Linked DNA regions of Homo sapiens. The protein of the gene in region 1 purifies or fractionates together with the protein of each later gene. This does not show direct contact. Each region holds a gene or a part of one and is shown on either strand. Other genes may lie near its edges.

The links.
Region 2: the proteins of IFI27L1 (region 1) and ARGLU1 purify together in Homo sapiens (affinity purification with mass spectrometry; one large-scale study listed by BioGRID and IntAct). This does not show direct contact.
Region 3: the proteins of IFI27L1 (region 1) and ESF1 purify together in Homo sapiens (affinity purification with mass spectrometry; one large-scale study listed by BioGRID and IntAct). This does not show direct contact.
Region 4: the proteins of IFI27L1 (region 1) and PAXBP1 purify together in Homo sapiens (affinity purification with mass spectrometry; one large-scale study listed by BioGRID and IntAct). This does not show direct contact.
Region 5: the proteins of IFI27L1 (region 1) and DIDO1 purify together in Homo sapiens (affinity purification with mass spectrometry; one large-scale study listed by BioGRID and IntAct). This does not show direct contact.
Region 6: the proteins of IFI27L1 (region 1) and LSM14A purify together in Homo sapiens (affinity purification with mass spectrometry; one large-scale study listed by BioGRID and IntAct). This does not show direct contact.
Region 7: the proteins of IFI27L1 (region 1) and DCAF13 purify together in Homo sapiens (affinity purification with mass spectrometry; one large-scale study listed by BioGRID and IntAct). This does not show direct contact.

What each region holds. Positions count from the first base shown.
Region 1 is NC_000014.9:94,087,810-94,091,309, forward strand, and holds part of IFI27L1 (interferon alpha-inducible protein 27-like protein 1 precursor), read left to right. Parts: intron 1-3,500. UniProt on the Homo sapiens protein: Plays a role in the apoptotic process and has a pro-apoptotic activity.
Region 2 is NC_000013.11:106,546,922-106,551,510, reverse strand, and holds part of ARGLU1 (arginine and glutamate-rich protein 1), read left to right. Parts: intron 1-4,589. UniProt on the Homo sapiens protein: Dual function regulator of gene expression; regulator of transcription and modulator of alternative splicing. General coactivator of nuclear receptor-induced gene expression, including genes activated by the glucocorticoid receptor NR3C1.
Region 3 is NC_000020.11:13,774,216-13,778,804, forward strand, and holds part of ESF1 (ESF1 homolog), read right to left. Parts: intron 2,056-4,589; coding exon 1,658-2,055; intron 1,056-1,657; coding exon 942-1,055; intron 1-941. UniProt on the Homo sapiens protein: May constitute a novel regulatory system for basal transcription. Negatively regulates ABT1.
Region 4 is NC_000021.9:32,764,863-32,769,451, forward strand, and holds part of PAXBP1 (PAX3- and PAX7-binding protein 1), read right to left. Parts: intron 1-4,589. UniProt on the Homo sapiens protein: Adapter protein linking the transcription factors PAX3 and PAX7 to the histone methylation machinery and involved in myogenesis.
Region 5 is NC_000020.11:62,915,895-62,920,483, forward strand, and holds part of DIDO1 (death-inducer obliterator 1), read right to left. Parts: intron 1-4,589. UniProt on the Homo sapiens protein: Putative transcription factor, weakly pro-apoptotic when overexpressed. Tumor suppressor. Required for early embryonic stem cell development.
Region 6 is NC_000019.10:34,213,284-34,217,872, reverse strand, and holds part of LSM14A (protein LSM14 homolog A), read right to left. Parts: intron 2,750-4,589; coding exon 2,573-2,749; intron 2,278-2,572; coding exon 2,212-2,277; intron 1-2,211. UniProt on the Homo sapiens protein: Essential for formation of P-bodies, cytoplasmic structures that provide storage sites for translationally inactive mRNAs and protect them from degradation. Acts as a repressor of mRNA translation. May play a role in mitotic spindle assembly.
Region 7 is NC_000008.11:103,435,481-103,440,069, reverse strand, and holds part of DCAF13 (DDB1- and CUL4-associated factor 13), read right to left. Parts: intron 4,445-4,589; coding exon 4,280-4,444; intron 1-4,279. UniProt on the Homo sapiens protein: Part of the small subunit (SSU) processome, first precursor of the small eukaryotic ribosomal subunit.

The DNA.
Region 1 (3,500 bases):
CATTCATGTGCAGATATTTGTGCACATCTCTGATTCTTTTCTTGTGATGAATTCCAAGAAGTAAAATTTCTAAACCAAATAAGCTTTCACTACATGCTGTCAAATAAAGTATGGGTTAGAACACGCCATACCCAGCAGTGAATGAGGATCACTACTCCTTTCCTCATGCAAACACTGCATGTTCCAGTTATTTGCTTCCTGAGGCAGATTATAAGGATGTAGTCACTCAGCTCTGTTTCACGCTCTGCTGTGAACCCTCAAGGATGGAAAGTTAATGACTCTATTCCCCTGGCTTCCCCATATGCCAGTTCTGCAAATGACCTGAATTGTGCCAAGCTGACTCCCCTGTGCAAGGATGTGAAGGTGGAAGGGACACAGGGGCTGTGCTTCGGCTTCTTCTACTGCCAAGCATTGTAGTAGGGACTTGTTTTTTTGCAGTAGCAGAAGCAGAGTCCCAGGATCCATTTCTTACGTTACTATGCGAGATGCAGAAGGTAAGTTTTCATTTTACTGGCATAGATGCCCCAGAGCCAACAGGTGTGGCAGTGGCTTCCCGATATCCCAGTTTCGTGATCATGGCACTGGCTGAAGCATTCTTGGTGGCCCACTTTTAGGGTGGAGCCACATTCTGGGGTTGGGGCATTCCTGGAACATCAGCTTAGACCCTCCTCCTCCAATCCTGGAACAATCTTTTTTTTTTTTTTTTTGGAGACAGAGTCTTGCTCTGTCGCCCAGGTTGGAGTGCAGTGACACGATCTCAGCTCACTGCAAGCTCCACCCCCTGGAACAATCTTATAGTCACCTAATTCCCTGTGTCAAAACCCACTCTGCTTAAGTTGGCTGGAGTGACTTCTGTTATCTGCAGCTGAACTCTGACTAATAGATGCATGTGACACACATACAAAATGTTACCTCCTTTAAATCTTTTACTATTAGTAAGATTGACCATCTTTTTAAGTGTCTATTAGTCATGCGTAATTCTGTCTTGGGGAGCTGTCTCCTAGTCTTCGGAGTTCCTTGTTAAAGGCAGTTCCTTTTAAAAATTGATTCATAAGGAAAACTCTCTTTGAGTTGGGGATACTAATCGTGCAAAAGTATTATTTTGTTTGGTTTGTTTTCCCCTCAGTATGTCACTTGTCTCTTAACCTTCATGATAAATCCATTTTTCACCACGAGGGACTTTGTTCATGGTGTTTTTTTGTTTGTTTTGTTATTTTGTTATTTTTATTTTTAGAGAGAGTGTTTTGCTCTGTTGGCTAGGCTGGAGTGCAGTGGTTGGGTCATGGCTCACTGCAGCTGTTACTGGATAGAGGTCCCGATGCATATCCTAAGAGAAGGTTCTTGGATATCATGCAAGAAAGAATTTCAGGTGAATCCATAAAGCAAGAGCAAGTTTATTAACAAAGTAAGGGAATAAAAGAATGGCCATTCCATAGTCAGAATAGCAGCTTGAGCTGCTTGAATGATAATACTTATAGTTATTTCTTGATTATATGCTAAACAAGTGGTGGATTATTAATGAGTTTTTGAGGTGGGCAATTCCTGGAACTGAGGGTTCCTCCCCCTTTCAGACCATATAGGGTAACTTCTTGATGTTGCCATGGCGTTTATAAATGGTCATGGTGCTGCTGGGAGTGTCTTGTAGCATGCTAATGCATTATAATTAGTATATAATGAGCAATGAGGATGACCAGAGGTCACTCTCATCACCGTCTTGGTTTTGGTGGGTTTGGGCTGTCTTCTTTACTGCATGCTATTTTATCAGCATGGTCTTTGTGAACTGTATCGTGTGCCTATCTCCTGTCTCATCCTGTGACTAAGAATGCGTAACCTCCTGGGAATGCAGCCTAGTAGGTCTCAGCCTTATTTTACCCAGCTCTTATTCAAGATGGAGTCACTCTGGTTCAAATGCTTCTGACATATTTACCCCCTCCCTTTTACAAGGAAACCCTTAAGCCTAAGGGTTGTAGAAGTATGTAGATCCATCTTCTGTAATTTCTTCAGACTGAATAGGGGCGATGATATTCCTGCCTAACTATTAGGGTCTCTTGTATTCAGGGTAGAGTGGAGCTCAGTCAGAAAGTGTCGGTATGGCAAGGACCATTCATAACTCTTGAGTTCCGACAAAAGGTGATATCTGGAAGATTAGTAAGTGTTCAATTTAAGAAAACATTGAGTAAGCTCATCCTACATTTCTATACAAAGAGTACAACAGCAACATATTCCACAACAGTAAAGTAAAATAAGCAAAATTATCCCAAGTAAACTGAATAAGAAGGCTTTCCAGGAACTGGGCAATTGTTGGAACCAAGCTGATATGGGGGTCTCTAGCTGATTCCAATATGTGCCCAAATTAGAATATTGATCCAGATTTTTACATTACCCATCCCTCTTGTTTCTTCTGAGCTGCAGCCAGAGATCACCGATTGGTTCACAGGAATAAGCAGGGTCAGTCTAAATTGCAGAAAAAAACTCAAAAACAACTGATGAGACTAGAATTTAATAACTGGTGTACCACAGTTTTTGAAACCTAATTTTTCTCTCTCCAGTCCTCATTTTAGTATAAAACAAATCATAATTTGACAGATTTGGTTTATTATACCTGGCCTGATTATTTGTATAAAGTGCAGCAAGAATGATTATTTTTCACATAGGCTTTTTAAATTGACTTTGGTGGAACTTTGTTCCATGAAAGGAATCTCAGATAAGACATTTTTAAAGCTGAGGCCAGCCATGGGTTGGTAGCAGATACCTACGAGTTTGGGTAAATTCCTCTCCTTAAGAGGTTTCAAGATAACTTGGGGCTCTTGGGCCTGTCAGAAAGTGACATTCTTTGGTCAGGAACCCTGTACAGTGACTGTGTAGGCAAGATACGAGGCTAGTTTTCCCAAGGGGCTTTTATTGGCTCTATAAGTCAAGTTTGATTCCTTAAGGGAAAGCACATCATTACAGTCAAAGCCTTGGTAAAATAACCGATGTCTCCAATTGCATCCAATTGCAAAATGAAATGGATTCTTATTGTACTTATGCAGATAACTATATTGCCATAAATTAAGAATATGCAGTTTCCAAATTCTGGAGAAATCAGGTAGAGAGAAGCAAATATACTCCAAATTTTGTTCACAGTAGTATACTTTACTCAATTATCAAAAGTTGTAAATAGCTCAAAATAAAAATTTTTTTGGCTCTGTAAAAGATCAGGAAAAAGTCAGAAAGATTGGTTCAGACTTCTGTTAGTTTAGTTCATGCGCTTAATTCCTGTTCTGTCTGATGCTCATGAACATTTCAGCTCTCCATGAAAGTCCTGAAAGATTTTTTCTAACATCACAATGTCCAAAGTTATCAGAAACCTGCATCCAAGAGCATCTGTCAAAGTCCTATAGCTGATTAAGGGTCACCTTTTAAAGAGGATCAAAACAAGGTAACAGTTGCCTGTGGATGACAAAAAGTTTTAGGACAGCCGCTATTATAGCCACAATTGGCTAGAAATTGTGGTTACT
Region 2 (4,589 bases), on another chromosome or scaffold:
AATGCATATGTTGCCTTTAAAGACTGTTGGCAAAAATATGGATTTTAAAGGTGCTTCTGGTTAGGGCTCAGAAGCAAATTAGGAACATATAAACTGGAGGGAAAGAGATCCTTTCTATAAGTGATAGAAAGCTTGGCTGAATTGTGTCCTACAGTTGTATATAAGGCAGAACTTAAAACTTTTTCATATTTAGCTGAGAATTCTAAGTAAGTGTTGAAGTTGCAGCCTGGTTTCTTCCTGTTTATAGTAAAGTGGCAAGAAAAGCTAAATTGAAGAATGAACTGATAAGTATAGAAAGAACCACCAGCACTGGATGTTGGGAATATCTCAGGCTACTCAGATGGCAAAAGGTGTTCACTGTTAGAAAAACTGTCTCTGGAAAGAAGGCCAGGGGTATTGCTAGACAGCCTTTTGTTTGTGTGGAAGAAACTATGCATGTAACTCATAGGTTCCCGTACTATCTCAGTAAAAGCCAGAAATAGATGAGATTATCCAGGAAATATCTATGGAGAACGATGTTTAATGATGTGACGTGTAGGGGACCTCCAAAGTTTCTGAGAATGTTGTGTCAGCAGAAACTGCCAACTGGTACTGAAAAAGACACATGACACGATGAAGGAAGGTGTTCAGACTCCTGACAGAATCCATGCACATAGGAAAGGTGATGTGAAAACAAACACAGAGATTTGAGGATGTTGATCTTGGAGTGAAGTGTCCACACACCAAGAAACCTTGGCAGCCACCAGAAGCTGGAAGAGGCAGGGAACAGATTCTCCCATAGAACCTCTGGAGGAAGTGTGTCCCTGCCAACACTTTTGATTTTTGTTCCAGTGATACTGATTTTGGACTTCTTGACTCCATAATAAATTTCATCCAGTTGCAGTTTGTTACAGTGGCCACAGGAAATGAACACAGTTGGAAAAAGAACAGGGTATCTTATAGTAGAGCAAGCATTTCTATAAGTTGAAATGGTACAATACTTAGGAAAAATAAGGCACCAAATGTAAATGTCAAATATTTTAATTTGAAATGAAGTTTTGGGTAAGTCAGGTAAGGATTTTCAGAGAGCGAGAGGTTTTTTCCTGATTGTTAAGATAAAAAGCTGGTTGAAGACCTTATGTTAATGTATTTGGGACAGTAATTTAAAAAATAAATTTCTGGACATGAGTGAGTGTATTGACATTGTGAAGGATGGGTTTGTAGGACACAAATTGGAAACACGAAGCCACTGAAGGCCAGTCAAAAGATGGGGCCTTGAATCACCAAAGTAGCAGTTCTTAGAAACTGTGAGGGAGAACTAATAAACTTGGTGAGTGAAGAGGTATGAAAAAGCCGGGACGCAGGGGAAAGTCTGTTGTAGGAACCAGAAAAGACACTCCTGATGTAATCATTCCTAATAAACTCATGCCAGGTATCCCTAAGCATTTAAGGAAAACTTAGTGCACAAAATAGTGAATGACCAAGACAGAAGAACTGTAAAAAGAGAGAATGTAGGATACAGAAGATTAAAAGAGCCACATCTAGATAATACCTTTATTTGTGAAATTTTAGAACAGAAAGTATAAAGAAAATTCCAAAGGCATCTGATTTTCCTTGGCAAAATTATACAGCAGTCTCTCCAGAGTGCTCAGGCAGTGCTTTTTGTACATAATATTGCATACAAAGCTCAATCTCAGTCACTTCCTCCTTTTGAAACAGTTGTCTTCACTTCAGGTAACATGGAATCCATGGAGATATTATCTAAGGTTGAAGTTTCAAAAATGATTTAAGATTATATATAAATGTCACAAGAGGGGAATTAAGAATAAAAGGGGGTAAAGGGAGTAGGTGGTGATAGGAATTTAGATGGTAGCTAATGATATCCTGTAATGATGGTTTGGCATATTAGAAACCCTAAGGAGGTAACTGTGAGAATAAATATGTTGTCACAGGGATGAAGGGGATCCTTGCGTTTTACCCTTCTGTTATTTAACATTGTACATGGAATACCTCAGAAAAATTTACTGACGTAGTTTACTAAGTGTCAGAACTAATCGTATCAAATATATTTTTTTCATTTTTTTATTCATTGGTTATCTAAAGTGGGATATACATTTAAAAAGTTATGGAAGGGAAGATGAATAAAGGAATTAAAATTATAAATGGCAGAGTGGATCAGGCTGTTTATCTTGGAAGGTTTAAAATGTAGAAATCACATTTCTGAATAGTGGCATAGTTTCTAATTGTGCTGTTTTTCATCCATTTCTATAATCACTCTTGAAATATTTCTATGGATTTTTAAAATTTTATAAAGTTACATATATTTCAAATAGAGAATAGATTTCAGTATCTCTGTCTGCTAAAGGGACTGTTGCTAAGAACTACCTTGATTAAATTTATGGACAGTTTAAGAAGGAGAATGCTTAGGAAGGTAATCTTTATAAAATCAGTAGATCCTCTGGGTAAAGACGGTAGGGCAGAGGCCGGGCACAGTGGCTCACGCCTGTAATCCCAGCACTTTGGGAGGCCAGGGCAGGCGGATCACAAGGTCAGAAGATCTAGACCATCCTGGCTAACAAGATGAAACTCCGTCTCTACTAAAATACTACAAAAAAAGGAGCCGGGCGTTGTGGCACGCACCTGTAGTCCCAGCTACTCGGGAGGCTGAGGCAGGAGAATCGCATGAACCCGGGAGGCGGAGGTTGCAGTGAGCCAAGATCGTGTCATTGCACTCCAGCCTGGGCAACAAGAGCAAGACTCTGTCTAAAAATAAATAAATAAATAAAATAGGGCAGAGATTACTGGGAGGGGTAAGTAGGCCTTTTAACTATAATGGAACATTTTTTTGTGTGTGTACTTCTTACCACCAGTCACTCTTTAGCTTGGGGTACAAAGTTGAAAGCCACCTTTGTGAGATTGAACAGGGTTATGGGCATAATGGCTAGGAGGGTCTGCCCCAGTGTATTGGTTCTGGTATTGTGGATGTTAGCTTTCTCCTTGGCCTCCAAGCTGTCCACTACGTAATCCTTGTGAGTGAGTTGCTTAGTATTACTCATCTGTATAAATACATATATGCATCCCCAACCCCCCATGCAAATACTGCTTTCTTGTGCATAAATGTGAAACAAGCAGGGAAAGGAGCAATGGTTGTATTCTCCGGCAAGTCAAGTCATCAGGAAAGAAAAAGTTACTACAGAGAGAGGGTAGGATTTAGGAAAATACCTAGCAAATAAGGTATAGGGTCATACCACACTTACAAGTGGTGGATGAACAGGAAACCAGCTTTTATCACTTGAGAGACTATATTAAAATGAGAGATGACGGTTGTTAGTGTTTGAATAGTCTTTTTTTTTGTCAAAGTGTAATTAAGATTTATGCCTAAAGCCATAGTAGAACAAAATACCAATATTTGTATATAGACAGTATATTCAACTAATTTTTAAATCATTGCATTAAATACTTCTAGTAGGCACTGTATGCCTAGCATTGGTGATTAACATTGTTGAGCCGTAGTCCCGGAGAAAATCAACTCTGCTGTACATACATACACAACACACTTTTGCCTTCTGTATTTGTAGACCTAAGTGAAGAAACTTGATTCTTTACCCAATCTAAAGTGCAGAATTAGTATTTTATCTGAAGGAAGTTGCTTTACTTTAAAAATCTTGTTTTTTTAATTAGGCAAAATGATCACATGGTTCAAATTTTGTTTTTTTAGGAAGAGAAACAGTGAAGTCCCTTTACCTTACCCCCAACCCAATCCCCAATTCCCAACCCCGTCTCCAAAAGTGTACTCAGTTACGGGTTTTTAAAATCTTTTCAGAATGTCTGTAAAAGCATATTCAGGCAGATACAAATGCATAATATTTTAATTCTCCCTTTATTGCACAAAAGTAGCATGTACACAAGGAACTTTCTTTTTTTCATTTAACAGTGTAACTTGGAGATTTTTCCATTGCGGAACATAGGGGCCTCCTTTTTTCCTCTTACTTGTTTTTAATGGCTATACAATATTCTCCTTTATATATCTTCAGTAATTTATTTAGTGTACCCCATATTGGTGGATATTTGGGTTTTTTTCACATTCTTTTCTTTCTATAAACTGTGTTGTAATATGTAACCCTGTAAATATATCAGTTTCGCATGGGTGCAAAATTTGCACATTGCTGTACAAGTACATAATGTAAATTCCAGAAAATGTACTTGCTGGCATAAAGTATTACGAAGATGTAATTTTGATAGTGTGAGAGTGCTCTTTATATGATAGCATATGTGTGTTAGTCCATTTTTTGCTGCTCTAACAGGGTAATTTATAAAAATATTTGGCTCAGGGTTCTGGAAGCCGGGAAGCCTAAGAACATGGCACAGGCATCCCATGAGGTTTCCCCATGGTGGAAGGCATCACATGGCGAGCAAGCTAGACAGAGAGGGCCCTAGAGAGAGAGAAAAGTGGTGGCCAGACTCGTCTTTTTATCAGGAGCCCATTCCCATGGTAACCAACCCACATCCCACTCGGGTAATAACAGAATTAATCCATTCATGAGGATGAACCCCTCATGGCCTAATCACTGCTTAAATGCCCCACATCTTAATACTGTTAACAATGCCAG
Region 3 (4,589 bases), on another chromosome or scaffold:
TAGACATAACATCTTTAAATATTTAAACAGAATAATACAGGTTGAGCATCCCAAATCCCAAATCCAAAATTCCAAACTTTTTGACTGTCAACGTGAGGTTCAAAGGAAACGCTCATTGGCGCATTTCAGATTTTGGAATTGCGATGCTCATCCAGTAAGTATATATAATGCAATTTTATTTCAAAATCTGAAATTCTAAACACTTCTGATCCCAAGCATTTTGGATAAGGGAGACTCAATCTCTAATAATGATTGAGGGCAGGGCTATTTCAGGCACTGCACTAAATACTTAGTTCAAGCTCCTTTATACTTAATCCTTACAATCACCAATACTATTGTTATATCCATTTGGATATATTGGAAAGATGTAAACATACTTGAGAGATTAATTAAGTGTCCAGGATCACATAACACTTACGAGAATCAAGATTTGAACCCAGGTCTGCAATAATGCAAAGCCTGGATTCTTAATTATTAGGTTGGCTTGAAATATGGTATCCTCAAAATTTATGTAAGTTTTTCAAATTTATCAAGTGTTACAGTTTACTTCACATAGGTCATTTGTGTTTATTAAGGTAATTTCCAAGAACTTTATGTGGTTTTGTTTCTAGTATAATTAGATTTTTTCCTTAATTGGCCAGTGTTAGCAATAAGGAATGCAATTTATTGTTAAAAACACTTCTTATATGCTGTCCCTTTACTGAGCTTTTATTTCTTTGGATTTTTAATGTGTAAACAATCATATAACCTATCAATAATAATAATTTCACCTCTTCCTTTCTAACATTTATACCTGTTACATAAGTTTCACACTCAATTGGATTGGACAACTTCCACAGTATTTTCCTAAAAAGGAAAACTATGGCCAAAAAAAAAAAAAAAAATCAGATTTAACTTAAAATGCCTAGAAATATTTATTTCAAAATGAAATCAATTCTCACCTTGACGGAAAATATTACACCTCCTTTGGGTTTAAATGAATTGAACAGAGCCAGCAAATCTTTTGCCTTTAATCTATCCCAGTCCATGTTACAAACTGCTAATCGACGTGTAATCTGAGAAATGAGAAGAATTAAATAGTACATAATCCATATCATTCTCAATACTTGAAAAATAAAGATTCTAAAAATGTAATGCCTTCTGTCCCCTATGCTCTGAAATTAATAGTACAGGAGTTATCTAAGCGTAATTCAGTATATAAAAGAGAACTTCAAATGAGCCAAACAATAGTAAAACCATAACAGGTAAGTACTTTCTCTTACTTGGTTCTTAATTCTTAAATCAGAACATGATCATGAGCTGATTTTTTAACCACCAAGTTTGTTCAGCTATTTTGCCATGCATGCATGAGTAAGGAAGTTGAGTATGTTACCCTGCAACATTTCTTTTGGGTGCCGTACAAACAGAAATACAAACTACTAGCTAAAACAAGTATTAAAAATTTCATGCAACTTTTAATTATTTATGTAGAGCCTCTTCTTATCTGCTTGGACGTCTTCTAGTTCATATAATTATATTCCATATCAAATTTTAATCAGAATCATAAAGAATACTATTACCAATAAGCTTTTCCCACTTAATGACATCAGTTCTACCAGCCATAAAAGCTGCTTGTACTGTGTTTTTCACAAATAATCTTGTTTATTCAAAAGGTTACCTCATCAGCACGAGGAGCATCTTTATCTAATTCTCTCCAAGCATGCTCAAAACCAGATTCTTCTGGAAACAAATCTGCCGTATCATCTTCATCTTCAGAACTAGTTTCTATATTTCCTTTACCCCTTGCAAGATCAGGGCCACTGTCACTTTTATCATCATCCTCACTATCCTCATCTTCATCCTCCTCTTCATCTTCATCCTCCTCTTCATCATCTTCACTTCCATCGTCATCACCTGAAGCTCTACCAACACTTGTAATTTCATTTTCAGATTCCTCATCACTTCCTATTTCACTAACGCTTTCTGAATCTTCCTCCAGAGCATCTTTGTCACACATTTCACCATCTGTTGAGTTTTCATAACCATCACTGTCTCTTGTCATTATGAGTTGAACCACTGCAAAATGTTAAAGGGGAAAGAAATTAAGAAAAGATATATGCTGAATTAAACTGAATCCAAATTATCTTGACATCAACTCCAGTAAAAATATAATTTCTATGAAACACAGTAAAGACAAATATATATTCAGTAAATGCTTAGTCAATTTTTATGATAGAAATCCTAACCATAACTTCTATGAAACAGAGTAAAGGAAAATACACTTAACCAAGTTATTTAATGGAAATCCTAACACATGCTCACATCACGCAAGTAGATCCAGACATTCATTCAATACTTAACAGTGTGCCTGCTACGTGCTAAGTGCTCAATATACAACAGTTGGTAAAAGAGAAGCAAACAGTGCTCTCAGTGAAACTTCTAGCTGAGTGAAAAGAATACATGGATATCAAATAAAATCAATATATAGGAAAAGTTAAAATCACAACTAAGATATCCCAGAAAGAATGTTTTCTAAGGGGATTTAATGGGGTCCCTAAGTGAGTGATAACTGAGCTGTTACTTGAAGGATGAACAGGAGTTAAATAGTCAAAGTTAGACTAATAGATGGAAATTTGTTTGAAAGAGCAAGGAAGGTACCTGTAAAAATCTGCCAATAGGAAAAAGCCAACCATCATGTCCAGATCACAGATAGCACAGAATCAAGTAACAAATGGAAATGAAGAGTTAAGTAGAGGCCAAGCTATCAAAAAACCATATAGAGAGCTTGGACTTTTTCATAAAAGCAATGGGAAGACACTGCTGTTTTCAAAAAAGAGGATGTCATCTTCTTTTGGATATTGTCATCCTCAGACTTGCATATTGAGGAGATCACCTTGACTATACTGTAGAAAACTGACTTGGGAAAGTAAAGAACAGATGTGAATATAGTAAAGGTAGTACAGTACAAAAAGCAAGAAATGAAGGTAGCACTAAGTTGGGTGGCAGTATGTATGCAGAGATGTACATGGATTTCAGAGTCAGTCAGGAAGTGAAACCAATAATTACCGACTGGAGATTTGACACGGGGACTGGGAGTTTTGGAAGTGTCAAAGATGAGTCATAGCTTCTTAGCTTTCAGAGCTAGTTAGCTAAGAAGATGGAAAGATGAAAAGGGAACACTGGAAATGAACTAGTTTGTTTGGTGGAGGGAAATCATGAGTTCAGTTTTGAATATGTTGAATACGAAGTGCCACTCAGTCATCTAAAAGAAAGTATCAATAATAAGAGTGTACAGCTCAGAGAAGTCTGGGTTGGAGATCAGTGACTCATTCATACGCAGTTGACAACAGAAGCTGTGATGTGGATGAGATCACCTATAAAGACAGAGAAATAATATTTATACTTTTTCTGCCAGGTCTTGAACTTTGTAATCAACTGTCATGATTAGCAATACACCAAGATTGAAAGACTGTTTTTGCTTAAGATGGAAATTTTAGTCCTCACAACTCTGAAAGGGCTCATTTCCTACTTCTAAAGCAATCACAGGCTTCTATCTACTTGGTGTGTAGATATATCTTACGTGTTTTACTCATCTTTAAGTTGGAGCTTATTTTCTGCTTACAGGCTCTAAGTTTGGAAAATTAAAAGCAAATTTAAAAGTTCAAGATTTAGAATGAAATTGGAACTAATTTTCTCTTGGTCCTATAATCTTATAATAGTTATTCACTGACCAAATATTTACTGAGTATCTACTACATACAAAGAATTGAGCTAGGATAAGGGAAAAGAGAGAAGATTTGTAACACGATCTCATGCTCTTGATGGATTCATAAATAAAAGGTAACCATTTACTGATTTATAAATCTATGTTCTCAATCACCATACAGTGAGAGACATCTAAATTTGCCTGCAGAGAGGTATTTATAAAAAGGCTTCACAAAGATACAACTTGACTTGAGACTAACTGAATGAAAAGGCATCTTGTTAGAAGGAAAAGCAGGAAATGGGCTTTTATGTTACCACCACAACGAAGCAGGGATTAATAAAAATAACTAGCCAATAGAAGTGAAAAGCGCCAAAATGAAAGCATTGTCACAGGTTCTATATATGAGATCTGAAAAACACAACATTGAAAGTTACTATGAGGTAAGCAGAATTTACTTTTAAGCAACAAGCTTAGAAATAACATCTTACAGACCCAGTCTATCTAGTATTGCAATATTTCTCAACTGTCAGTCATTATACCATTTTCATGATTTTTGAATATCATTTTTTTATTAAATTGAATTTTTTAAAAGTTAGTTTTGCTCTAAACAATATTCCTAAAGTCACAGAAGTGATAGGGTAATTACATTGTTTTCTAAGATGTTGACACAGTACATAACTATTAATATTTTAGAAGTTTGAGTATCATCAAAAATCTTCTCACTTATGACAATGGTACACATACCACACTTTGGGTTATATAATAATAAAGTGTTGCATAAGAGACTTAAAGAGGTCTTCCATTTCAATGTTTTTAACAATATCAACTGCATTCAGAGTATTTATTCATTCAATAAGTATCTGCAGCCGAGCACAGCTGCTCACGCCTGTAATCCCATCATATT
Region 4 (4,589 bases), on another chromosome or scaffold:
CTCCCACAAGGAACTGCTTGTACCTCTTTCAAGCATTACTTCATTTTATGTTAGTATTTCATTAAACCCTAAGCCCATGCGAGGCAACTCTGTTATGAACAAAGCACATTTACAGTCCAGCTAAGTCTCTTAGTAATGGACACTTACATGGAATACCTTCTTAGCTCAAAACCACTTGTCACCTATCACCTAAAGAGATGAGATCCCAGCAGTCACATTTACACTGTGCAAGCCTGACCCCACTACCACGACTCAATGTTTAAGAGTGGACTTCTGACTGAAGCAGAGATAACCAGATTCTCTTTCTGGGAATCTGGAATCAGGACTGAAACTAAAGGCTACATGAATATGTAAACTAGGAAGGGAGCTGAGGAATGGCCACATTGTGCCATCTGGACAGAGAAGAGAGCCTCCTAATTCTCAGTTCTAATCCACTCCTGAGGCCCATTTCAAGATTGCTTTCCTGCCATTGTCATCCAGGAGGCACCACTACATCTTAATGATAAACTGTCCTGGTTTACATTACTTACAATTAAATAATCCTAATACAGCCTCTGTCCCAGGCAAAAATCGAAGTGCTTCACCTTGAAGCACTGAACCTGGTAATGCTCACAACAGGCACAAGGAATATACTGAAAGAGTAAAGCAAAAGTTTATTCTCAATATGAAAGATATTTTTCTGTCATTTCCTTAGAATGTTCCTGTCCCCAAAACTGCTTCAAACTTCTTCCTTCTTCTCAAACCATACTGTACTCCCTTAAGTAACAGTCCCAGAGATAACATCCCTCCCCTCTTTTTAACTTTACCAAGAAGATTTTAGGTAACCTCTTTTAGGCTCTTTCATTTTTTTTCTTTTTTTTTTTCATTTACCATTTTCTCATTACCCAGACTTCCCTCTGAAATGGATTATGAAGCTATAAGGTTTTAAAACTCACTTTATCACATTATTAGATGGAGTAAAAACTACCTATTTCCTTTTGCTCTAAACCCATGCTAGGCCAGGCATGGTGGCTCACGCCTGTAATCCCCTGGGAGGCCAAGGCGGGTGGATCACCTGAGATCAGGAGTTCAAGACCAGCCAGGCCAATATGGTAAGACCCTGTCTCTACTAAACATACAAAAATTAGCTGGGCTTGGTGGCGCACACCTGTAGTCCCAGCTACTCAGGAGGCTGAGGCAGGAGAATCGCTTGAACCCAGGAGGCAGAAGCTGCAGTGAGGTGAAATCGCCCCACTGCACTCCAGCCTGAGCAACAGAACGAGATTCCACCTCAAAAACAAAACAAATTTACCCATGCTAAACCAATGGCTGTTAATGGACTAAAAACAAAAGCACAAAAGGTCTACTACATCAGATATGCTCAGATAATGAATGATTCCTACAAATTTTAGGATTCAATGTTTCATTAAATTCACAAGTATTTGCTTATGATTGAGCAAACACAAGCCGAAAGCATGGTGATATGTGAATGTCAGTGGTCACATGTTACCCTTCCAGACATCTCTATATAGATGTTAAATAACCTTTTTCAAGGCTCCACTCATGCCTTCAATTTCATTTACTACTACTTCAGGAAACCTGCTCACAATTATTACCCACTTCACCTTAAACCTGGTCAGGCTCTCCCTCTCCTCTTCTACAAAGAGGGACAGGCTTCTCTTCATCAAAAGAGCTTTCCCACTTGACTCCATTGGTCCCTCTAGTTATTGCCTAGTCTCTCTCTGCCAAACTTCCCAAGGAAGCAGTGTGGACCTGCTGCCCTCTACTTCCTCTCCAACTTTTGTGCCTTGACCCTACAAACAGCCTTTGATTTCACCCAACCTAACCCAATGGCTGCAGCCACGGCTAATTCATATATGATAGCATCATCAAGCAATTTAGCAAAAGATGTTCCTTCTTCCAAACATCTCTGAGGGCACTGGGTCTGGCTGGTGGGCCACTCCCATCCATCCTGTCAGAAGCCCTCAAGAGAAACGCTGGGCAATCTTGCCAATAGCCCCTCCTTGGTCCTCACTTTTCCTGACTTTTCTTGTACTAGTTCACACAAGCGACCATCATCTTCCTGAAACATTCTTCTCTTTTCCTCTTTGGCCTTCCTGATTCTTTTATCTCTTTGGTAAATCCCTTCCTCTACATGTAGGCTTACTAGAGTAGAAGTCTTTGGTCTTCAGGAATTTTTCCTTTATATACGGCTCCCTCATCAATTCCATTCACCTTTAATTATCACCGCAATAAGCACCACCCCCAAATCTACATCTCTAGGTATTCACTGACTACTTCCACTCAAATTCAAATTAAAAAGAGAACTCATTATTTTAAGAATATCAGAAAAATGGGGTTCTCAAGTCAATACCGTGGTTATTTTGAAGTTAATTGTCTCTGCCTACTATAGAGGGTTGAAGGTAGGAAGAGTTCTGGATTGCCAATTAATGACAGACCTTCATTTCAGTGTTACCAATGACAACCTACAATACAATCAGACTCCGCCTTCAGAGGACATTAATTGGAGTTATCTAGTGAGTGGAGTATCAGAATTCAATGAGGATAGAAGGATGGAAGAGGTCAGAGATGGCTTCATCAACTTCACACTTGTTTCAATTTCTAAACCCAACAATAAATGGCAACTAATATGGTTTGACTATGTCTCCATCCAAATGTCAACTTGAATTTTATCTCCCAGAATTCCTACGTGTTGTGGAAGGGACCCAGGAGGAGGTAACTAAATCATGGGGGCTGGTCTTTCCCGTGCCATTCTCATGACAGTGAATAAGTCTCACGAGATCTGATGGGTTTATCAGGGGTTTCCGCTTTTGCTTCCTCCTCATTTTCTCTTGCTGCCGCCATGTAAAAAGTGCCTTTCACCTCCTGCCATGATTCTGAGGCCTCCGCAGCCACGTGGAACTGTAAGTCCAATTAAACCTCTTTTTCTTCCCAGTCTTGGGTATGTCTTTATCAGCAGCATGAAAACAGACTTAATACAACAACCATGACAACAGGCCTTTCTCAGTTGTCACTTATCCTGACCTTTCTTTTACTCTCATCATATATAGTTGGTCTCAAGAATTCTGAGGAAAATAAGGCAGTTTCCTAGACTCCAAAATAACCAGTTCTCCTAAAAACATTCCTCCTTCCACTTGCCTTCTCTATTCCTATATATAATTATTCATAACCAAGACACCCTATGGTTTGAGTGTCCTCTCCAAAACTCATGTTGAAATTTAATTGCCATTGTAACGTTATTAACAGGTGGGGCCCTTAAATGGCAGTTACAACATGAGAAGGTGAATGCCATTATCCCAGGCTCCTGATAAAAGGATGAGTTTGGCAGGATATTCTCTCTCTGTCTTGGAGACTCACCTGCCCTTCTACCATGTTATGACAACATAAAGGCCCTTAGTAGATGCCTGTGCCATGCTCTTGGCCCTCCCAGACTCCAGAACTGTCAACCAAATAAACTTCTATTGTTTATAAATTACCTAGTCTGTAGTATTGTTACAGGAGCAGAAAATGGATTAAGACACTCCAGGACAAAAGTTCAAATTTGACTCTTTCTTTTAAATCCAATATGGCAAAGTGTATATTAAGCCTATCAATTCTTCCCTTGGAATGGTTCTCAAATCATTCTTTCTTTCCACTTCTCCCCCTAAAACAACAGAAAACATTTTTAACTCATCCAGAATTTCCTACTAAATCAGTAGAAGCCTTTACTCTTGCTCAACTGTGAGACCTTTTTAAACCCACTATTAATGGATCAAAGCTGGCCCTTGAGTTTAAACTGCTTTAGGCCTCCAATCTCTCCTCATGCTGCATGTTAATACCAGGCTAAAGTTTCAAAACGCATTTATCATGTCACCATCTTGGCAAGCCACTGTAGCAAATGTAAACCCTTACTGGATACTGAACATCCTTCACAATCTGTCAACGTATCTTTCACATGAAACTTCTAACTACTTCCTTCACAAATCATCTACTCTGACCTGTCAGGTGTACTTGTTCTTTTCCAAAACAGCTTTAGTCATTTTAATCCTTGATCATACCCCCAATACCTTCCCTTTCGGAATTTTAACTATCAAAGATCCATCTTCGAGTCCCACTTTTTCCATAAAGCAGTCCTCTCTCCTCTGAAAGAGTAGCCACCCTTTGGAACACTGATTGAACATTTTGCCAAACACTGAGTCCTCTTACACATTTATGAGATATTGTCTTCACATCTAGATTGTAAATTTGAGATACAAAGCCATACTTTTTCACAATAAGCCTGTAAGTGAGAATCTGGAAAATCATGATTTTCTCATTAATTCCATAAAATAAAATAGCATTTGCAGGAGAATAACTCAGACCATAGAATATTATACTGGATCCACTTTCCTAAAGACAAAATAACCGCTTAAAATTTTTTAAACTGAGGTTTTGAGAGACGTAAGAGATGTCTGTACAATATACCTGCCTCATTATTCTAAGGAGTCTTCATCTAGTATCAGATAAGGCTGCTGAATGGGAGTAATACTAATATTAAATTTAGGGCATTCCTAAAAGTTCTCTAAGAATAAAATCCACTGTGGAAATACCACCAAAGAAATCGCAAATCT
Region 5 (4,589 bases), on another chromosome or scaffold:
TAGATTTGAGTTCTGAGTAATCAGAAAAATGTAGTTATTTCTGTTAAGTAGAATTCAATGAAGGATATACCTTCGGAAAAGATCAGATCACTTTATATTTACAAAACTGATTTCATAATGTCTTCAACAGAGAAAATTTACTATAACATTTCAGTCAGCTTGTAAAATAAAAACATATGTATATCAAGGCACAAGCAAAAAAACCTGTTCTAACACAACTTTTTGTGTGTATAATTAGTGTGTAATTCTACACACTACACAGCCCATCACAGGGGGAATGTGTTCATAAAACTGCAACCATATTGTATCAGTAACAACTTTTCCCCAGAAAGAAAAATGTGGGTATCCTTGAAGCTGGGAAGTGAACAAACTACAGGTTAAAACAGAATGTACCAAATTTAATATTTCCACATTTCTAAGCACATTTTTTTCCCCAGCTGAAAACTGCTTCATTTTCTATTGACTAGAAGCAGCTGATGAGCGGCGATTCAAGCAGAGGACACACACTGACTTCCAAATGCTTGAATGGCGGCTCTCAAACCTTTTGTCTCAAGACACTTTTACAAGTTGAGAACACCAAAGAGCTTTTGTTTATGTGGAATGTATTGCTATTTTCAAAATTCTAAGTATGTATTAAAAATAAACCTATTAATACATTAATAGTATCTTTAAATGAAAGTTATTTCTAAAACAAACAAAAATGAACAGGAAGAGTGGCCCTGTTGTACATTTTTGCAAATTTCTGGCATAACCGAAGACAGCTCCATGTTCATGTCTACTTCTGCCCTCAATCTGTTCCCATAGAGTGTTTCAGCTAAAACATGTCATCAAAATCTTGCCTCACACAGATAGGTCTTTAGAATGGAGTATTGTAACCATCTTCACATAACTGGATGTTCACTGATACTACACCAACTCTCGCCAAGGAGCAGTTTCATAAAAGTTAGCTGAAACAGAATTTGCAGCCTTTGTCAAGGAACTTCTCCCTTTCTTTCATGAAAACTGACTGCTGTGTTCACTCTGAACACGTCCTTGCACTCTGGACCCATGTGCATGCTGTTCACCTGGATGACACGGGTTCAAGTAACAGACAGATTCTCAATGTCCACACATCTCATCGGATAGCATAAAACAAACATTTTTTTTCCTGTTGCCCAGGATGGAGTGCAGTGGTGCAATCAAGGATCACTGCAGCCTCAGCACCTCCCCCACCCACACCACCGCCAGGCTCAAAGCGGTCTTCCCACCTCACCCTCCCCAGTAGCTGGGACTACAGGTGCATGCCACCATGCCCAGGTAATTTTTGCATTTTTTTTTGTAGAGACAGGGTCTTACTATGTTGCCCAAGCTGGTCTCAAACTCCTGGGATCAAGTGATCTACCCACCTCCGCCTTCCAAAGTGCTGGGATTACAAGTGTGAGTCACCTCACCTGGCCGATAATGTCGGGTCCAATCTCCAAGAAGACTTTAATTACTAGAAAGCCATCAGGTTTACAATGGCAGATACAAGTTTTCTAAAATTCCAATTTTCACCCCAAAGCTCAAATTTTATCCTTAGCAACAAATACTGTTCGTTTTTTCTTTGAGACATCACTCGTTTTGGACAAAACGCCTGCCACATGCTGAGTCTGAAAACTGTCCTCCGTCTGTTGTTCTGTCAGGGACAGACAGCGTTTCCGAGACCACTCGGCTCCCAGCTCAATCCCCTAGGGCTGTGCGTGGACAGTACCACGTGGGGATGCAGCAGAAGCTTTATATATAACTTGACATTTAATCACAGCGAAAGTAAAAAAGATGTATGTTTGCGGGTTCCGAAAAAAATTAATATTTACTGCATCATCAGGGACATTATTTGGGAAAATTGGCATATTCTAAACATTCGGTGCCCATGCACGGTGCTGAAGAGGGCTCCAATCTGCCCTGTGCCACCGATGCAAATGTCAAACTCACCAGAAAAGGCCTGTACTATTAGACTATTATTATGCAGAAGTCATCTTTACCTCTTAGCCCCAGAAAGGGCTTCAAGGACTTCCCCCTCAGGAGTCCATGAAACACAAAGAACTGTGGCAACATGCCATTTCTACCAGTTTAGGAGTACACTGGATATGTGCAAAGCAGTAATACATACCTATGCTTCAGACATCAGAAGAGACTTTAAACATTTCCTTCCACAAGGGTTCTGTAACTACCTGTTAATCTTCCCTCAGATTCCCCAACTCACCAAAACAGTAAGCAGCCAAAAGTGAAATTTCTTAAAAACCAAATAAAAATATCTTCCCAAAAGGTCAGCTCTGTTACTTTAAAAAGCCTAACTGCAACTATTACAATGCATGGGTTTGCAACCACTGCAAATCTGTATGCTCAACTTTTACTACTCTAAAATCTGCTTGAAGTCATTAACTCAAGCGTGCCCACTTCCAGGTTGTGGTACAGCTGCATGATCAGGGCTCACTGCAGCCTCTACCTCATAGGTTCAAACGATCCTTCTGCCTCAACCTGAGTAGCTGGGACACCACTGGCGTGAGCCACAGTGCCCAGCTCCCACCTAAAGATTTTCAGTTCCAAAAACTTGAGACTAGTTTCTGAGTAATTAATCTCCAAGACACTTTAAAATATGACATACAACCATAATTAAGTTTCTATTTTCATAACATCGCACCTCCAGGAAAAGAGCTCTGACTTCTAAGCAAAAAGATAAAACAAAAATGCATAGTTTACCTCACCTAGTGGCAAACATTCTGTTTCTTCAAACCTCACATTCCCCTGAAACAATATTCAAAACAATTTTAACCCGCCAGTCAGAAATTATAATGCTACAATAAAACCTCACTATTCTAAACTTCATTATTTTCGCTAATTCTGACAGGGTAGGCCAAAGTTTACATTTATTTATATTTTGCCTATTAAGGGTCTCCTGGCTCATCAATCTGTTTATTATGCAGATGAGGAGCAACTGAGAAGACACTAGGTAAAAGATCTTTAAACTACCACAAATGAAGGAAAGATTACCCAATGAAAGACTCTTGATAGCTCAGTTTTCATTAATGCGACAGTCACTAGGAGAATATGCCTAGAAACTTCAGATGACATCCCCAAATGCGACGTGTTCTCCAGCCACCAGCAGCAGCCGTTCATGTACCATGATGGCCCACTCAAAGCTCCACCAGCTTGCGGCAGGAAACACTGTGCTGCACTCACCAAACAGGAAAGAGATTTGGGCCCACAAGGAACTGAAGAAGCCCAACTTTCATTTACTTTAGTATCTATGCAGAATCTGACTCAATTGCATAGATTACATTTAAATCCTTCAGACGGCAAATTCAAAGTTTTGCTGCTTACCAAATAATACCGTCATTACAAAAATTATTCTGGGCCGGGTGCGGTGGCTCATGCCTGCACTTCGGGAGGCTGAGGCAGGTGGATCACCTGAGGTCAGGAGTTTGAGACCAGCCTGGCCAACATGGTGAAATCCCCATCTCTACTAAAAACACAAAAATTAGCAGGGCTTGGTGGCAGGTGCCTGTAGTCCCAGCTACTTGGGAGGCTGAGGCAGGAGAATCACTTAAACCCGGGAAGCGGAGGTTGCAGTGAGCTGAGATCGTGCCACTGTACTCCAGCCTGGGCAACAAGAGCAAAACTCCCTCTCAAAGAAGAAAAAAAAAAAGCAGCAAGGGTGCCACAACACAGTATGTTTCTCACAAAGAAAATGTAGAGAAAAATCCAGAAACAACCTATTGTTGTTTTACATTTCTTGGGTATTTGTGTTTTTATAGATACGCGGAGACAAAAAGCAAAACTTGTTACTGAAAAACCTGCTGAGGACTAATGCTTTGGCCAGCCCCCGGCTACAGCCGGGCCGCCAAGCTCCCCATGTGAGCTTGCAACAATCCTGCCATTTCCCTCTATCTACTTCCTAGTGCAAAACACAGGCTGGTGACCTTGGTGGGCAACTCAGGTGGGAAATTTCAACTCTCCAAATGAATGCCAGGAACCAGAAACAGTCACATAAAATCATTTATCGAGGTGAAGGAGAAGTGAGGTTTATTGTTCTCTATTTAATGGCTGGACATAAAGTCTCCTAAACCACTACCTTTGATGGACTCCTCTTGTCTCAGTAAAAAAGAAAGTATGGTTTCAAACACTTAAGATACGGTCCCAATTCTACATACCAGGATTCCTGTTGCTCTTAATAAAAGATTACCACTTGGGCCCTGGTGAGGACCACAATGCACAGGTTCTTATCCCCATGAAGAAATCCACCTCATGCCGCAAGTGTGGCAGTGTGAGCTCCCCGGGTACCATGTGAGTGGGGTGCGCTGCGGGAGGTCATCCCAGCAGGGTACTGTGGGGGCTGCTTCCCCTCAAGGGCATCTGTTTATTACAGGTTTAAATCACTGTTCCTTTATGTTCTCCTCGGTCCACACCCTTAGAGACCTGCATAATTCCATGGCCCCAAGCACAGCCTACTCTTGCCTCCCCCCAACCCCCGATTTTCACTGCTGCAAAGGATTCAGCAAGGGGCTGTGTAGGGCACTTTGAGGGAGAGGTGTGTACTGGAACAGCTTTACCGGTGACAGCGCATCAGATTG
Region 6 (4,589 bases), on another chromosome or scaffold:
GGCAGTTATTTTATTTTGGGAGGGGAGCTCTCTCTTTTTCTGAATAAAAAGGGTAAAATATAATGAGTCAAATTAAACAAAATTCTGTATTCCATGGCATATGTAGTCCCAGCTACTCAGGAGGGTGAGGCAGGAGAATGGCATGAACCCGGGCGGTGGAGGTTGCAGTGAGCTGAGATCGTGCCCCACTGCACTCCAGCCTGGGTGACAGAGGTTGACTCTGTCTCAAAAAAAAAAAAAAAAAAAAAAAAAACACGGGGGGGGGGGATATAAAAATATATATATATATAAATGTAGAGAAGAGTACATATACATCTAAAAATATCATATCTAGATTTCTAAAATTAAGTGAAAGATCATTTTTCAATCATTTTCTAAATAAGGTAGATTATACATTCCCTTTTTAATTTAGAAGAGTTGTAAAATTATAATTTATTTTCCATTAATAAATTTGAAAATATTAATAAAATGAATGATTTTAGAATGTTATATATTACAAAACAGATAAAGAAAATATAAAACCTTATTAAATCAATAATCATAAAAGAAAACTACAGCTCTTAAACAACTGATTCAAAAACAGGATCTGGGCTCAATTTTTTTTTTTTTTTTTTTTTGACAGACTCTCGCTCTGTTGCCCAGGCTGGAGTGCAGTGGTACGATCTTGGCTCACTACAACCTCGCCTCCCGGGTTCAAGTGATTCTCCTGCCTCAGCCTCCCGAGCAGCTGGGACTACAGGCGTGTGCCACCACACCCAGCTAATTTTTCTATTTTTAGTAGAGACAGGGTTTCACCGTATGGCCAGGCTGATCTCAAACTCCTGACCTCGTGACCTGCCCGCCTCGGCGTCCCAAAGTGCTGAGATTACAGGTGTGAGCCACCGTGCCTGGCCTCTGGGCTTAATTTTAATGAGGAAACGTTTCAAACTTGTAACATGAAGAAAATTCCATTCCCAAAGGCATAGAAAACAATGAAAACCAATTTTATAATCCTAACTTGAAACTGACACAAAACATAAAAACCACAAAAGTAGAAGCCATAGGAAAATGTAAATATAAACGAACAAATCCTTCTAGCAGGAAATACTCAAGAACATATTAAAAGATAACTGCCTGGCTGGGTGCGGTGGCTCACGCCTATAATCCCAATACTTCGGGAGGCTGAGGTGGGTGGAAAATAAGGTCAGGAGTTTGAGGCCAGCCTGGCCAACATGGCAAAGCCCTGTTTCTACTAAAAATACAAAAATTAGCTGGGTATGGTGGCACGCGGCTGTAATCCCAGCTACTAGGGAGGCTGAGGCAGGAGAATTACTTGAACCCGGGAGGCGGAGGCTGCCGTGAGCTGAGATCACACCACTGCACTACAGCCTGGGTAACAAGAGTGAAACTCCATCTCAGAAAAAAAAAGGCCTACCACTAAGTAGAATTTTTTTCCAGAAAAGTAAAATTTTTTTTTTTTTGAGACAGAGTCTGGCTCTGTCGCCTAGGCTGGAGTGCAGTGGAGCAATCTCGGCTCACTGCAAGCTCCACCTCCCCAGTTCACGCCATTCTCCTGCCTCAGCCTCCTGAGTAGCTGGGACTACAGGCGCCCGCCACTGCGCCCGGCTAATTTTTTGTATTTTTAGTGGAGACGGGGTTTCACCATGTTAGCCAGGCTGGTCTCGAGCTCCTGACCTCGTGATCCGCCCGCCCCGGCCTCCCAAAGTGCTGGAATTACAGGCGTGAGCCACTGTGCCGGGCCCAGAAAAGTAAAATTTTAAAAAATCTTTTTATTTTAAAGTAATTATAGAAAAGAAAAATTGAAAAACTAGTTCAGAGTCGTCCCTTGTGCCCATCACCCAACTTCCCAAACTCCAACAGTCACATCTTATATAATTATGGTACATTATCGAAACCAAGAAACCGACACAGGCACAATCTAATTAACTAAACTACAGACCTTGCTCAGATGTCACCAGTTTGTACATGTACTCATTTTTTGGTATGTCTTTATGCATAGTTCTATGATGTTCTACCATATATAGATTTGCAAAACTACCACCACAATCAAGATAAAGGACTGTTCTGTCACCACAGTGACACTCCCCTGTGCTCCTCCTTTACAGTCACAACCCCCGCCTTTCATTTTTTTATAGTAATTATGTATCATATATTTAAAATATTCTCCCTGTTGAGAAGCATAGAATATGACTTTTAGATCCAAGAACTTACCTACTTGTCTCTTGTTATCATTTCTGAGTTGCTCATTTTCTGGCCTTGAAACTTTGTGTACTTCAGCTACAGAAGAAGACATGCAAAGTGCCAAATCAACTCAGGGTACATCATCAAAAACTTCCATAGTTAGAAATGCAAACAAACAAACCAAAAAACCCAAAACAAAGCCTGTGCAATGCCCAAAAAACTATACCCACACCACCACCACTTTGAGTCAAATTTGAAAGACCAAACATTCTATCATATTCAGTTTAATTTTCTGGGATCATTCACATGAAGTAAATCCTTCTAATGAAAATAAAGTGAGTGGAAAACATTGATCAGTCAATTAAGGAACAGTAAACAGCTAAAGTTCTACCTCGCCTGTGCTCCTGATTCTCTCCTGCCTTTTGGCTGGCAGATGGCAAAGGCCTGGTTGATACAGGACTCCTTCTCCCAACAGCTGCTGGAGCAGGTAAGTGGGCTGAGGCGGTCTGCACTGCTTGTTCCATGGTTGGGCTTTTTCTCAAAGGGTCTAACTGAGGGCTTGAGCGACCTAAAATGTAACCAAAAGATAACAAACTACCCTATTGGGGATTTCAAAATAATCTAGACCCTAAAAAAAATTGTCCAGAGTTTTATTTCTATCAATTCAAACCCTTAGCACAAATTTGAATTAATCCACTTATCAGACCAGATATTAAGAATGGTATCCTTAGTGGGCTTGTCATTAGGTTAAAAATAAAAAATAATAATAATTTAAAAAAAAACTTCAACAGCTTCAAAACAACTCCCTCCCCCTCACAATTTTATCTGTTATTTCTACTTAGTGGAAGAGTTTACATCAAAAAAAAAAAAAAAAATTGCTGCCAGGTACGAGATTCCCTAGAATTATCCTACAAATTATCATGTTGTAGTCAGGTCAAACACAGGCTTTCGCCAATGACAACCATAAGACTATGGTGACTTGTTTTAATCTTTCTTAGTACTTTCTGTAGATGACTAAAACAATACCTTTACATCTATCTACAGGTATTAACTCCATTAAATTTCTATTATAAGAAAGTAAAGGGCCGGGCGCAGTGGCATATGCCTGTAATCCTAGTCCTTTGGGAGGCTGAAGCAGGAGGATCGCTTGAGCCCAGGATTTCAAGACCAGCCTAGGCAACATGGCGAAACCCTGTCTCTACTGAAAATACAAAAATTAGCCAGGCGTGGTGGCGCGTGCCTGTGTTCCCAGCTACTCAGGAGGCTGAGATGGGATAGCTTGAACCCGGGAGGCAGAAGCTGCAGTGAGCCGAGATTGTGCCACTGCACTCTAGCCTAGGTGACAGAGCAAGGCCCTGTCTCATAAATAAATAAATAAATAAATAAATAAATAAATAAAGTAAAAGAACTACAAAGTTAGATAGGTGAAGTTCTTTAATGCTTTAGGGGCTTGGGTAATTAAACATAAAAACTAAAAGGCCAGCAAAAAAACAAACAAACAAAACCAAAAAACAAACAAAAAAAACCCTTCAGATAATTACACAGTAGCCATACTCATTCCTTGCCTTTTAAAAGATCTCTTGGCAAGTTTTTGCTTAATATGGGGTTTGGCTGGGCGCGGTTGCTCACACCTATAATCCCAGCAATTTGGGAGGCTGAGATGGGCAGATCGCTTGAGCTCAGGAGTTCGAGACCAGCCTGAACAACATGGCGAAAGCCTGTCTCTACAAAAAAAATACAAAAATTAGCCAGGTGTGGTGGCACATGCCTGTAACCCCAGCTACTCAGGGGGCTGAAGTGGGTGGATTGCTTGAGCCTGGGAGGCAGAGGTTGTAGTGAGCCGAGATCGGTCCACTGCATCCAGCCTGGGTGACAAAACTAGACTCTGTCTCAAAAAATACAAATATAAAAGAGCCAAAACAAAAAATGGGGTTTGTACTTATACATTATATTTTTCCTTTTATGAGGTCGCCTGGTCACAGCATGAACTGAAGAATGTAACATCGGGTGCTCCCATCATGCTTTCTGTCCTGATAATGTTTGCTGTACATCTCTGCTTAGGCACTCACATCTCATAATTATTCCAAAATATAATGTTTTGCTTAAAAAAAATGCTCATTTCACGTAAAAAAATCCCCCAAATATGCTGCAAATGTTACTGTCCATCTGTGCATATTTGCAGGTGTCAAACAACTGGTGAGTGCTGACAATGCATTATTATGTACCTAGATGATTCAGGGATAATTTATTAGTAATATTTCCCCAATTTATGATTATCTAAAGTATGCACTTACAAATGTGCAATACCATTTCAGCCATTAATGGCAAAGTTAGCCAAATAAATGATCATTTATCAAAACCCAGAAACCGACACAGGCACAATCTACTTAACATTTCAAAATTAAGTT
Region 7 (4,589 bases), on another chromosome or scaffold:
TTAAGTATCAGGATACTATTTCTGAGTCCTATAGGAGTATAAAATAAAAACTCAAATTCTTGTCAATGTATTTTTATTGAACCCAACTAATAAGGTTCCGTGTTAAGTGCTGGGGTAGTAAACAAATTTCTGCTCTCAGAGAACTTACTATCTAGTAAGAGAAATAAATATGAACAAACTAAGCAAAACCAGATGTACAGAAAAGTTCACAGAATAACTAAAAGCATAAAATGCAAATAAAATATGATGTTCAACCAAGGTAACTTTGTAACAAAAAGAAAGGACTTGATCTTAAAAGGCCTCTTCCCCATATCAAATCAATTCAGGTCAACACACTTTTTTTCCCCTTCATTTTACTGAAAAAGAAAGAAATGCAATGGTCTTCAAAGAGTACCTCCTGATATGCTGAATCTAATGCCAGAATTTTGTTTTGGTTAAATTGTTTAAAAAGCTTAATTAATTAGACCAGCCTGCCCAACATGGTGAAACCTTGTCTCTACTAAAATTACAAAAGTTAGTTGGGCGTGGTGGCACACACCTGTAATCCCAGTTACTAGGGAGGCTGAGGCAGGAGAATCACTTGAACCTGGGAGGCAGAGATTGTAGTGAGCCAAGATTGTGCCACTGTACTCCAGCGTGGGTGACAGAGTGAGACTCTGCCTCAAAAAAAAAAAAAAAAAAAAAAAGCTTAATTAAAGTGAGTTGATGATTTACATGTGTGAAAAGGAAGGGAGGACTACAGAAGTGTCTGATAAGTTGAGGTAAGAATAATTTAATAGAGCCAGGTGCGGTGGCTCACACCTGTAATCCCAGCACTTTGGGAGGCTGCAGTAGGTGGATCACGAGGTCAGGAGATCGAGACCAGGTGAAACCCCATCTCTACTAAAAATGCAAAAAATTAGCCAGGCATGGTGGCAGGCGCCTGTAGTCCCAGCTACTTGGGAGGCTGAGGCAGAATGGCGTGAACCCAGGAGGCGGAGCTTGCAGTGAGCCGAGATCGTGCTACTGCACTCCAGCCTGGGCAACAGAGCAAGACTCCATCTCAAAAAAAGAAAAAAAAGAATCATTTAATAAATGGAGATGTCAAATATCATACCTATTTGGAAAGGCTGTGAAATATGCTAGAAGAATTCACAGGTGATACTATATTAGTAAGTGTTAAGAAAGGCATTAAAAAGCAAGTAAAATACAAGGTCAGAAAAAGTAAGATGAAACTTCTGGAGAAATAAATTTTCTGCATCTGGATTAAATTATTCAAAATGCAGAGTATATAAAGAGGAAGGAAACAGGCTCAATAAACTATGCACAGTAAAATAAAACTCAAACAGAATGACTAAATCAAATATTCATATCTATAAAAAATATCTCTAAAGTAGGCAAGGTGCAGTGGCTCATGCCTATAATCCCAGTACTTTGGTGAGAGGATTACTTGAGCCCAGGAGTTTGAGACCAGCCTGAGTAACACAGGGAGACCCCATAGCTACTAAAGATAAATTTTAAAAATTAGCTAGGTGTGGTGCTGCTCAGGAGTCTGAGGTAGGAGGATCACTAGAGCCCAGAAGACAGGGGCTGTAGTGAGCCGTGTGGCATCACTGCACTCTAGCCTGGCTGACAGAGCCAGACTCTGTCTCAAAAAAAAAAAAAAAAATCTCTCGACTATACTCACAAAACTGGTCTTTTACACTGTTTCTGATAGGTATGTTTTAAGCACTTTGATAAACCATTAGAAATTCATTTTTAAAAGAGAGGGGATGATTAAAAAGAACGTCCTATTAAAATGAAAACTAGATGAGATAGACTGCTTTTTCTTCTCCCGCTCAGTGCTCTGCTTTTGAAGACTCATTTCTTATAATCTCCACATACCTAAGAAGCCCTTTTTTCCAAAGCAGTATAATGCATTTGAAGTAGGGAAATTCAATCAGGTTTCCGTAACCATTAAACATAATCTGTTCATGCAGTAGACCAGTCAGATCCAACGGTTAGTCACTTAAGTAACTGAGAATCCTCCCCAATGGTAAACTATGCTGAGTTCTTAACTTCTAGATATGTTTATGTCTGCATATATGCTAAGTTTATTAAGCTCACCAAAAGTTCTACTATTAGGAGATAAATACATTTTTAAAGGCTTAAATTCTTTATATACACAGTCACACTAATTTTTCCATGTGAACACTATTAATTTACTTGTTTGCTCAGTAAATACTGAATGAACTTCCAACAGAAGCCTACTTTCAAATACTGACTTAACTGTAGTTTTAAAAAATTTACTCAAAATTTATTTTAAAAATAATATGCTTTAGCCATTTTAAGGTCTTTTAAAGGAAAATATTTTTTAAATACAGATTATTCACCCAAGCATGAGTTATTTGATGTTTATAATGATAGGAAACAAACCACAGAAACAAATTAGAACTAGCTTTCAAGCAGATAAAGGCAAAGGTCAGAGGGAACACCATTTATATCTAAACACAACAGGACGTTAACACATATTAAGACTGTGATTACAAAACCTCCAAATGACATCAGGAGACAATTTCTTAGAAATGAAATATAAGAACCCTTTTATACAATTTTGGAATAATGTGAGTTTTCTAGCTAGACCTACATTTAGCTGTCCACACTAGCTTTGGAATAATTCAGCCTGAACTCAGCTGCTGGCCCCTTGGGATCATAGGTAACTACACAGTCCTGTTTTTTTCTTTGTTCTCGTTTCATTCTTTTGTCTACTTATGTACCATGTTGGAAAAATACTATCCTACTACCTTTGGAAGTTGTGGTGCCAAGAAATGATGGAGGACCATATTCTCTTGATTCTCAACATTTTCCAGAGGTGAGAGAAATATGGAAGCTATTAGTCTTGCCTTGGGCCTAAGTGAATAATGCCAAAAAAACACTCATGACAATTTGGAGAATATCAAGGCAGCAACAAAGGAAGCAATAGTCACATAGGAACACACAGCAGAAGCTCTACAACAGAAATGATGAAATGAAGATCAAAGTCATCAGAACACTCCTGTCAGTATGCTTCTAACTGAAGCACCTTCATAATCAGATAAACAGTGATGAAGATAATTATCTGCTGACAATGACGATACATGGTGTAGAAATCCATATGGCTTCCTCAAATTACAGTGGAAAAAGACTTAAATATCACAAGTAAAAGAGCAAAGAGTTAGATAAGCAGATTGACTATGACCATGATCATCCAATTATCATAATTTTTTGAGAAAAATTATTTCCATTTATTTGGATTTATTTTATGGATGCTTCCAGGAACACATCTAAAGCATTACTAAGGAACAATGGGAATGTGTATAACAGCTCTTTGTAAACCATAATTCACTATACAGGGGGCTGTATCTATACAGGACTTAGTTTTTAAAGTCAGTCTGTAAAGTGAAAACTCGAGAACAAAATTCCCCTTGCAAACTCCTTAAAATGCCATCACTTTCTGTAAACTACCTCTTTACAAAAATAAGATATAATAGATGTATAAATAGATACTGTATTTAATAACATATAATATGTAGTAAAGGGCCAAACTATACAAAACACAATAAAAATCTTAAATATTAGAATCACACTCTATGTGCTTACAAAATGAGACACACACGAGACTATGGGACAGCTGAGTATTCAAATCTCCCACCTCTCAACCTCTCATCAACCAAGCCATATACCTACTAAAGTGAAATAGAGGGAGAACGGTCTTGACAATTTAAACTTACTTTTATTTCTTTTTTAATTTTTGGTTTGGCATACAGAGTTGGATTTGACTAAGTAAAAAATAACAAATGTAAAGTATTATTACTAATTTTTCTTAAACTGTATTGGAGCAAAAAACTTTATTAAACTCAGGTACCCTCTCAGAAAAGATAAATAATAATCAGGACAAAGAAAAATGAAACAAAAATAGTCATATGACATTTTGGTCAATGAGAGACTGCATATACGACAGTGGTCCATTAAGATAATACTGGATTTTTACTGTACTTTTCCTGTGTTTATATATGTTTACATAAACAAATACCACTGTGTTACAATTGCCCACAGTATTCAGCACAGTAACATGCTGAACAGATTCGTAGTCTAGAAGCAACAGGCCATATCATATGACCACACAGCCTAGGTGTGCAACACGTTATACCATCTAGTTTTGTTTAAGTGCACTCTGATGATGTTCACACAATGATGAAATCGCCCAATGACTCATTTCTCAGAATGCATCCCCATTGTTAAGTGACATATGAATATAAATGGCTTACTGGTAGGCACATACCTGCTTCGACTTTTGTCTACAGGAAAGATTCGAATAGATTTATCGAAACTAGCAGACACAAACTCCTTCCCAGTGGGAGAGTAATCCACATCAAGCACTGCAGATACATGATCCATATGGACCATTACAGGAGTGTCCAGTGCACGCATATCAAAAGTATATAAGCTGTAAAAGAATTTTTAAATATTTGACACATATTTCTAGAAAGATGCCATATGCAGTACTAAAAGATACCACTGAAAACAAGAACCATTTGCAAAACAATGCACATCTAAACAAAAAGCTCAATGCTGTACACAAGCAGGTGAGG